Linked DNA regions of Homo sapiens: region 1 is linked to region 2. Evidence: fine-mapped expression QTL. A gene starts in region 2. The other region holds a variant in brackets. All regions are shown on one strand. Distances are from middle to middle. Region 1 overlaps NFIX (nuclear factor I X). Region 2 holds the start of NFIX (nuclear factor I X).

Region 1 (4,215 bases), 83 kb after region 2:
GTTCCCTAGTGGGATGGAATCCTCCCAGGATGAGAACCACTGGTCTCAAGGGCCCAGCTTCACAGAGAGAGGCTCAGAGTCTAGTGAAGAATGAGCAGAGTCCTTTTGAGACCAGGTAGGGAAGCTAGCGAAGGGGAGAGAGTACAGAGGAAGCCAGCTCAGACCTTCCCAGTCTCCTCTAGGGATCTTCTTCTTGTTGAACCCACCCCCCTTCACCTCCATTCTTGACTGAGGGTGCAGACAGACCTAGAGAGGACTCTGGAAGACAGCATGTAACACGTGCGTGTGTGTGTGTGCATGTGCATGAGCACATGTGTGTGAGGAGGCTGGCCGCAAGAGTCCCCCGCTGACGTGCCAGTGGTACAGCCCGTGTTTATCCTCACTGTGGGTGTGACAGGGCCTGGGAGTGCAGACTCACGCGTGTGGGTTGTGCACAGGGCATGGCTGCTCTGGACAGGCCTGGGCCCTGGGCATCATTCTCCTCCTCCAAAAGGTGAGGGTCTGACCTAATGGTACTTTGTCTGATGTTTTCCAGATATGCCCCTACTGGGAAGGGCCAAGTGGGCAGGCAGAGTCTGGGGTGGAGCGAGGTGGGGCTGGGAAGCACTCCTGCTTTTCTGCTGCCCCAGAACGAATGCAAGTTCTGGCAGCTTCTCCTCCTCCTGGGAGGAGGAAAGGAGGGCTCGCCTCCAGGCCTCAGGCTGAGGGAGTGGGCTGGAGACCCTCTAGATGGCCAGCAGAGGCTGGCCTCTGTGAGAAGGCTTCCTTGCGTGACTCTGGGGCCCCTCCCAGGCTCTCCTCGTGGCAGGCAGGGACTTGGGCCAGCATGGGCCACATGCTTCCCTAGGGGAGCCTTGAGAGGCAGAGAGAGGAGTTGAGAAGGCCCGGGAGACTCTTGGGCTACATCCTGGGTCCCTGGCCGGGGCCTCAGTAGGTGACCCCTTCTGCAAGGACTGCCCCTGGGGTGCATAGAGGACTGTGTCTGCAGCTGGCTCCTGGGGCAAGGGCTCCTGGGCTCCTGTGCCCAGACCTAATTCCTGAGGAGCCCCCCTCTTCCTGGCTCCTGCTCTCTCCTTTCTTGGCTGTCTGCTTTTGCGCCTGCCATTTCTGCATTTCTGCTCCTTCCGGCAGTCCTGCCACGCACGGCCCCTCAACATCCTCCTGCAGCACCCTCCGGCTCCCTTTTCCCCTCACCCCGCTGTGTGTTGTTTTCATGGGCTGCAACAAATTGCCAATTAAGCAGCCCAGCTGCAGGACAGGGAACAGCTGGGGAGGCACTGTGCGGCCATGGGGACAGCTGTGCACAGCTGGTAGGATGCTCCCCCCTCCCCACTGTGCCAGCTATCAGGTGGCACACAGCTGCTGCCAGATAACACCTCCGCTGGCGGCTGGGAGTTCGCCCTTCCCCCGCCCCTTCCCTCTGCAGTTAAGATGGCTCTTTATTTCTCTGTTCTGCAGCCCCTCCACCCCTCACCCAAACTGACTTGATTTGTCCTCCAAGGGTGGCAGCTGTGAGATCTGCCCCAACTCTACCTTATCCTTCCCAGCCTGGGCACAACCTTAAAGCTCAGCCCAAGATGGGAGCTGATCTTTCCAGAAGAACCTGGCCCCCTGGGGGCCCTGCTTTGTCATTTGGATGCTATGGCCACTGGGCAGAGATGAATTTCTAAAGACAGACTTCAAACAAGGTGTTCTCTGTGCCCTTGTTTCATGCTGAATGCCACCCACACCTCTGGCACCAGAAGCAGGGCAGAGCCCTGAAATTATCCATCCTATGGCAGCTGAGCTTCTGGGTCCCCTGGCTGGGGGAGTCTTCTCCCCTCTGGCTCTGCCTGCACAGCCCGGCTAGGCCTGAGCAGCCCAAGGACTCTCCAGGTCCTCTGGCCTCTGTCCCTGCTCTCTCGCTGGGCATTGTGTCCCTCCTGAGGGCTCATGGCTGTGTGCTCCCTTCCCTAAACGGGGCCCTGGCTTCTTCCCACCAGAACCTCCCATGGCCCCGGGCACCATGGCATAGACCCCAGCCTGTCCCTCCCAAACTTACCCCTTCCCGGCTCTCAAGCTGGCGCCCTGGGGTTCCTCCTGCACTCCTTTCCCAATGTTGGTCCTGCATCCCACCCTTTCACTTCATTACCTGCTTGCCAGGGCATAGGCTGGGGCCCTTGCTCACCCCCTGCCTGGCACACACCACCCCACATTACCCAGGGGCCTCGTTTTCCTCTCTGGTTAGAAGCACCCCTTGGCTGGCCTACACACAGGGCCTCGGAACCAGGCCTAGAACAAGGCCTGGGACTGGGCAAGGAGCAGCAGGAGGGAGCACAGTGGAGGAAGGGGCAGTGGGGAGGGGCTGAGGAGAGAAGGAGCGAGCTGCTGGCTTCC[C/T]GCCTTCCCCGCACCCACCCCAGCCCAGCTAAACCTGCCCTGTGTTGCTGCTTCCTCCCCCCAGGCCCGGCTTCTCTAAAGAAGTCAGGAAAGCTGGACTTCTGCAGTGCCCTCTCCTCTCAGGGCAGCTCCCCGCGCATGGCTTTCACCCACCACCCGCTGCCTGTGCTTGCTGGAGTCAGACCAGGTGAGAAATGGGGGGCCCCGGAGGGGGGCAGTTGGGGAGGTGGCTGAGTATCTAGGGGCAGCTGGCCAGGTGAAGGGGCCAGAGCTGACCCCGAGTGACAGCCCCACGCTCTCCAAGTGGGCCAAGGTGCAGCAGCGGGTGGGCATGGGAGCCGGCCCCTGCTTCACGTAGCACCTCATCGAGGACCAGGCCGGGCCCCTGGGCTGCCCACCTGGCTCCTGAGCAACCTCCCACTTCTCACTCCTCACGTGCATGGGTGCTACATACAACACAAGCCTGTCCCGAGTCCTCCCCAACTCTGGCCCAGTTCTCCTTTTGTCCTGCCAGCTGTGAGCGGGAAGGCACAGCCTTCTGCTCTGCCTTCCTGCCGGCTCCTCTCTCCCAGCTCCTGGCTGAGCCCAGGCTCTGGATTTTTGCCAGCATGAGCCCAGGTTGATGTGGGGCCTGGATGGAGAAGAGTACTCCTAAGGAGCCCAGGCTCCTGCGGCAAGTAGCTACCTTGTCTGGGCCTCCCTGCCGCTTTCTAGAAAGGAAGGGCTGGGTCTAGGGGACAGGTGGTACCTGGGCTGCTCCCCAGGAAAAGGAACTGCCCACTGCCGTGGGGCTGCTCTCTGACTTCAGTGTCCCAGTTGAGAAGGTGCTCAGGATGAGAACACCTAGATCGCCCTGAGGAGATAGGATCAGGCAGGAGGCTGTGGGAGCTGAGACCTCAGCCCTGTCACTCCTTCACTTTCTTCTTCCCTCTCTGGGCACCCACCTGGCAGCAAGAGGCCTGGACTTTTTCTGGATATGGCCCTATGTCCGCCTGCCATCTCCTGGGCTCGTATGTAGGACACAGAAAATGAGGAGGTTTACCTCCTGGCTTCCTCCTTGGGGCCTCCTGGCTGGGAGCCCAGAGGCAGCCGGTGCTGGGGCAGGGTGTGGTGGCCGCGAGGTGGGGGTGGGGAGCCCAGGCCCTCTACACAGGCAGCAGGAGGGCGCAGGCCTGGCTCCTCCGGCTCCACCTCAGCTTTTATGAACTCCAGAGAGAAGCCAAGTTTCCTCAGCCCCCTAATGAAACCGAGAGCAAGAGCGAGCTGATTGGAAACAGACGGGAGGAGGAAGAGCTGGGGCCTGCTCTGGGTTGGGAATTGCGTGTGCAAGGACGCGTATGTGAGGACACGTGTGTGAGTGATGAGGCTGAGCACATGAGAACACCGCCTAGGTGGCGGTGGCTGGGTGCACACCAGCTCGCACTCAGGAGATGTGTGTGCATATGTCAGACGGCCATCCTGAGCAGATGCTGGCTTTGTCTTCATCCAGAGCCCCAGGGAACCCTCTGCCTCCTCTTGTCCCCCACCCAGTCTCCCACCCAGGGCCTGAATTAAGGCAGGGCTAGTGAGGCACTCACCTTAGGTGCAGAGTGTCAGCAAGTATCAAAAACTCAGTCATCAAGATAAATAATATTTTAATGGAATATGTTTTAAAATCCAAACTATTGCAAAAAAAAGGGTATGGTAAGCAAACACCAGTTTTTTTGTTTGTTTTTCTTTTTCTTTTTTCAAAGACAGTTTCCTGCTCTATTACTCAGGCTGAATGCAGTGGCACGATTATAGCTCACTGAAGCCTTGAACTCCCAGACTCAAGTGATCCCTCCTGTGTGCCACCCTGGC
Region 2 (4,215 bases):
CACATACTCACGTACACATGCATACTTTTGTGCCTGCTTGCAAGAGCCCAATGGGCACAGCCAACCCTGTGTGCGTGCGCACCCCCCGCCCTGGGCACTGACACCCCCTTTAACAGACAATGCATAGCTGAGAATTGCCACAGCTTTTTGGCCCAAGAGAGCAAGAAGGTGCTGGTTGCACCTGGCAGCAGGCGGGTGTTTTGTCTCAGCAGGAGCTGCCTGGGGGCTGTAGGCACTGCCTCCCCACCCACCCTGAGGGTTACCAGAGGGCTTCCTCTCCCCTTGCTCCAGGGTCCCCAGCACTACCTCTCCCCCCAGGCCTTTATGTTCTGAAAATGAGGAGTCAGGGCCCGCAAGAGGGGCTGGAACCTCACCAAAGTGTGTGTGTGTGTGTGTACATGTACGGAGGCCCTGATGCCCAATTCTGTCCCTGACAGCTGAGCTGTGGGTCTCCTGCTATATTTGCCTATGTCGATGATCAGGGCCACATTACAAGTGTGTTGGGGGGGGGGCACGTAAGGGACATGGGTGTATGTGTGTGATCCCTGTGTGCATGGCTAGATGATTCTCCCAGGGGGGTTGTCAGCCGCCTGGGCATCAGTTGGTCAGTGTGTCCAAGGCCTGTGGGTACATCTGGGCAACCCAGTGTGTGTGTGTGTGTGTGTGTCTGTGTGTTGTGTTGTGACAGCCAGTGTTGCTTTGTATCTGTGACGCTGTGTATCTCTTTGTATTGGGGTCCTTTGCATTCACTTCCAGGTGTTTGGTGTGTGTTTATGTGACATTGTGTATCTTCCCTTCATTAGTGTCATCTTATTTATTTAGTTATTTTTTTTCAGACAGGGTCTTGCTCTGTCACCCAGGTTGGAGTGCAATGGCACTATCATGGCTCACTGCACCCTTGACCTCCCCGGGCTCAAGGGATCCCCCCACTTCAGCCTCCTAAGTAGCTGGGACCACAGGCATCCACCACCACACCCAGCTAATTTTTGTATTTTTGGTAGAGAGGGGTTTTGCCATGTTGTCCAGGCTGGTCTTGAACTCCTGAGCTCAAGCAATCCACTGGCCTCGGCCTCTCAATCATCAGTGTCATTCTGTACATCGGGGTGTACTGCCACAACTGCCAGTGTGTTCTGGCACTGCGATGTGTGTGTGTTGTGTATGTGTCTGCGTGTAGGAATTGTGTGTCTGGAAGGTGTCAGCGTGTGGCTGTGTGATCTTGCATGTGTCTGTGTTCTGCAGGAACATGCGTCAGTGTGTGTGCATCAGTGTGCATCTCTATGTGTCATGCACTGGTGTGTCTTCGTGTATATCAGTGTGTGTCTACGTGACGCCTGCTTTGGTGTATGTCTATACGCGGTTCCTTGTTGTGTGCCTGGATACCATGGTGGGACGGTGCATGTCAGAGCGTGGGTCGTGGGTGTTTTCCCAGACTGCTGTGTGTGTGTGCCCGTGTGTAGGGGTTGTGTGTCTGTGCCTTGTGTGCACTGGTGTCCGAGTGTGCTTTGTGTTCGAAGGCGGAACGTGTGGCCAGGCGTTCTGGACGTGACATGTGTGGCGGGGTCCGAGTCCCGCTGCGTGTCAGCGTGTGTCTGCGCTGGAACGCGGGCCAGCACGTGTCAGGGCGGCCGCGTCGGTGTGCGCCCCCGCGCGCGCGTGTGCGTGTGTTCGTGTGTGTGTGTGCATGTGTGTGCTTGTGTGTGTGCGCCGGCCGCCGCTCCCCCGCCCTGCCCGCCCCTCCCCGCGCCCCTCCTCCCGCCCGCGCCGCCCGCCCGCTCCCTCTCCCCGGAGTGCGCCGCTTCCAAACTTTGTCTAAACTTTCACTTTCACAGCGCGGCGGCTGCGGCGGCGGCGGCGGCGGGCGAGGGTGACCGGCCGAGCGGCGGCGGCATGGAGTAGACGCGCGGCGGCAGCGGCGGCGGCGGCGGACGCGAGAGGCAGCGGCGAGCGCGGCGGCGGCGGCGGCAGCGGCGGCCCCGGAGCCGGCGGGGCCGAGCTTGCGAGCGGCGAGCGCGGAGCGGCGCCGGGCCGAGCGCGGGGCCGCGGGCCGGGCGGGCGCAGCGCGGCGGAGGCCGGAGGAGCCGAGCCGGAGCCCGAGCCCGAGCGCGGCCGCCGCCTGCCGGGCCTCCCCTCGCCGCGGCCGGCCGCCGCGCTCCCGCCCGGGCGCCCAGCTATGTACTCCCCGTACTGCCTCACCCAGGTACCGGCCGCCGCCCCCGCGCGACCGGGGGAGGGGAGCGGGCGCGGGAGGCCGGCCGGCGGCGCGGGCGGAGGGGACGCGCGGCGGCCGGGAAGGGGGGGCCGAGAGCCCGCGGGCCGCCGAGGGGTGCAGGCTGTGCCGCGGGGAGCCCAGGCACGCGTGCGGGCGTCACCGTGCGCGTGCGACCCTGGCCACCGGGCGGACTCCTTTTGGGGGTTCCGGGGGTGGCCAGCTGCGTCGTGGCGCTGCCCGTGGAGCGCAGGCGGGAGTGCGTGTACGTGTGTGTGTGTGTGTGTGTGTGTGTGTGCGCGCTCGACTGGGGTGCGATGGGCAGCGGGACTCCGGCTGACCTGTGGGCTACTGTAGCGCGCACCCGGGCAGCGTGGTCGCTGGCAGTGTTTGCGGGGTTGACAGAGTGGCAAGAGGGTGGTCCCGAGGGCGCAGAGGGGACACTGGGTCCCGCGACGCTTCCTGGGGAGGGCGCAGCGGTTCCCGAGGGTGGCAGTGGCCGGCGTGCGTGGCGGCGGCCCTTGCGTGCGGCCGGGGTGCCTGGGGTGGGCCGAGCGGCCCGGGCGTCTCCCCAAAGTCTTTGTTTAGGCCTCACATGGGAGCGGGGCTAAGAAAATGGCGGGGCTCCCAAATTTCGGAGGGGCAGGGGAGGGGAGAGGGGGGCGGGCGCGCTGCCAGCGGTGGCCGCGCCTCTCCGACCCCGGACGTCGCAGCCTCTGCCCCCCCACCCCCAAACTTTCCTCGGCGCAAACTTTCTGGCCCCAGCGACCCGGGCTGCTGCGGAGTGGACCCGGCAGGCCTGGGGAATCCCGTCCCGTCGCCTGGAGGCGGGAGGGGCGGGAGGCAGCCGTGGACACAGCCGACAGTGCTGCGGCCACACCGTCGGGTCAGCCTCGGGCACAACAGCGCCGACCTTGGCGCGTTGCTAGAGCGCGTCCCGCCTGCAGCGAAGTTCCCTGCGCGGCGCACGGCTGCGGCAAAAGCTTCGAGGATGCCTGTCGGGCCACCCAACTCTCCCTGGGCTGTGGCCTGAGGCTCTAAGAGGGCACAGAAGCTGCCCAGAGTCCCACAGTGGCCCTGACAGCGTTGCCTGCAGGGCCAAGCCACAGCTGGTAACAGTCTCCGAAGAGGGGACATCTAGGGGCTGCTTAGCCCTGCTGCCAGCCAGGCCTGCATGTGGGGGTTCTCTAGGCCAGGCCCTAATTGTCCCCTCTGCCCAGCCTGATCCTTGTCAGCCATGTGCCAAGTGTGTCCACAGCTTACAGTGGCAGTCCACATGGGTATGGCTCCTACTTTGTCTGGGTCCTACCGGGAGTGTGCAGTGGTGTCAAGGGGCGAGGGGTTTGTCGGGGTGTGTGTCAGCTGTGGCTACACCACACTCCTGTATGCACAGGTGAGAGTGTATGCAAGTGTGAATCAATCTAGAGTCTGTGTGTAGCCCCTGTGGGCCGGCCATGGGCAGGCCTGCGTGGCATGGCCGTGTGTGTGGCCCAGGGAGCGGGTTTTCCTGTAGAAAGCAGGCCCAAGTACGTGTTGGCGAGGGCGCACCGGCATGCATACATGTTGCAGTGTGCATGCAGGTGTGAGCAGGCACCCTGAGCACCATGGCAGTGTGGGGAACCCCCACATCTGCACCTCCAGTTCCACGGCCACTCCATGTTGGGCGCCCCTCACAACAACTGCCTACCCAGCGGTGTCTGAGCTGGGCCTCTTTGGTGCTACACTTGGCTGGGCTGTGTGGCCGATGTTTGGGGCCTAGTGGAACCAAGACCCCACGCTCAAGCAGCCCCTTGCCCACCAGGCTGCCAGCCCGGCCTCCCATGCCAAGCACGCCAGACATCTGAGCCTGCTCCCCCATGGCTTGGGTGAGACACCAGCCCCTCAGATTTCACAGCACCCTGGGAGAGAAAATGCCTGTGGATACGCCGGTGACATGGCTAGGAAGGGGCTGGGGCGGCTGCGAGACCCAGGGCGATGGCCGGTGCTTGGCTCTGTGTGATTGTAGGCCC

The links. PIP is the estimated chance that this variant, and not a neighbour inherited with it, causes the effect.
Region 1: its variant is fine-mapped to the expression of NFIX in blood mononuclear cells (TOPMed, PIP above 0.99). The same link has a PIP of 0.9 or more in T cells and whole blood.

Annotation. Positions count from the first base shown.
Region 1 is chr19:13,076,173-13,080,387 of GRCh38, forward strand. NFIX (nuclear factor I X) reads left to right here. Exons shown (of 11, transcript NM_001365902.3): 7 at 2,441-2,563. Among named protein-coding and RNA genes, the nearest start is that of LYL1, 25 kb to the right of the region's middle. RefSeq lists an enhancer at 279-1,214. The variant C/T (reference allele first, on the strand shown) is at 2,377.
Region 2 is chr19:12,993,668-12,997,882 of GRCh38, forward strand. It overlaps NFIX (nuclear factor I X), which reads left to right and starts at 1,808. Exons shown (of 11, transcript NM_001365902.3): 1 at 1,808-2,197. The coding sequence starts at 2,171. RefSeq lists a silencer at 1,755-1,914 and an enhancer at 2,089-2,677.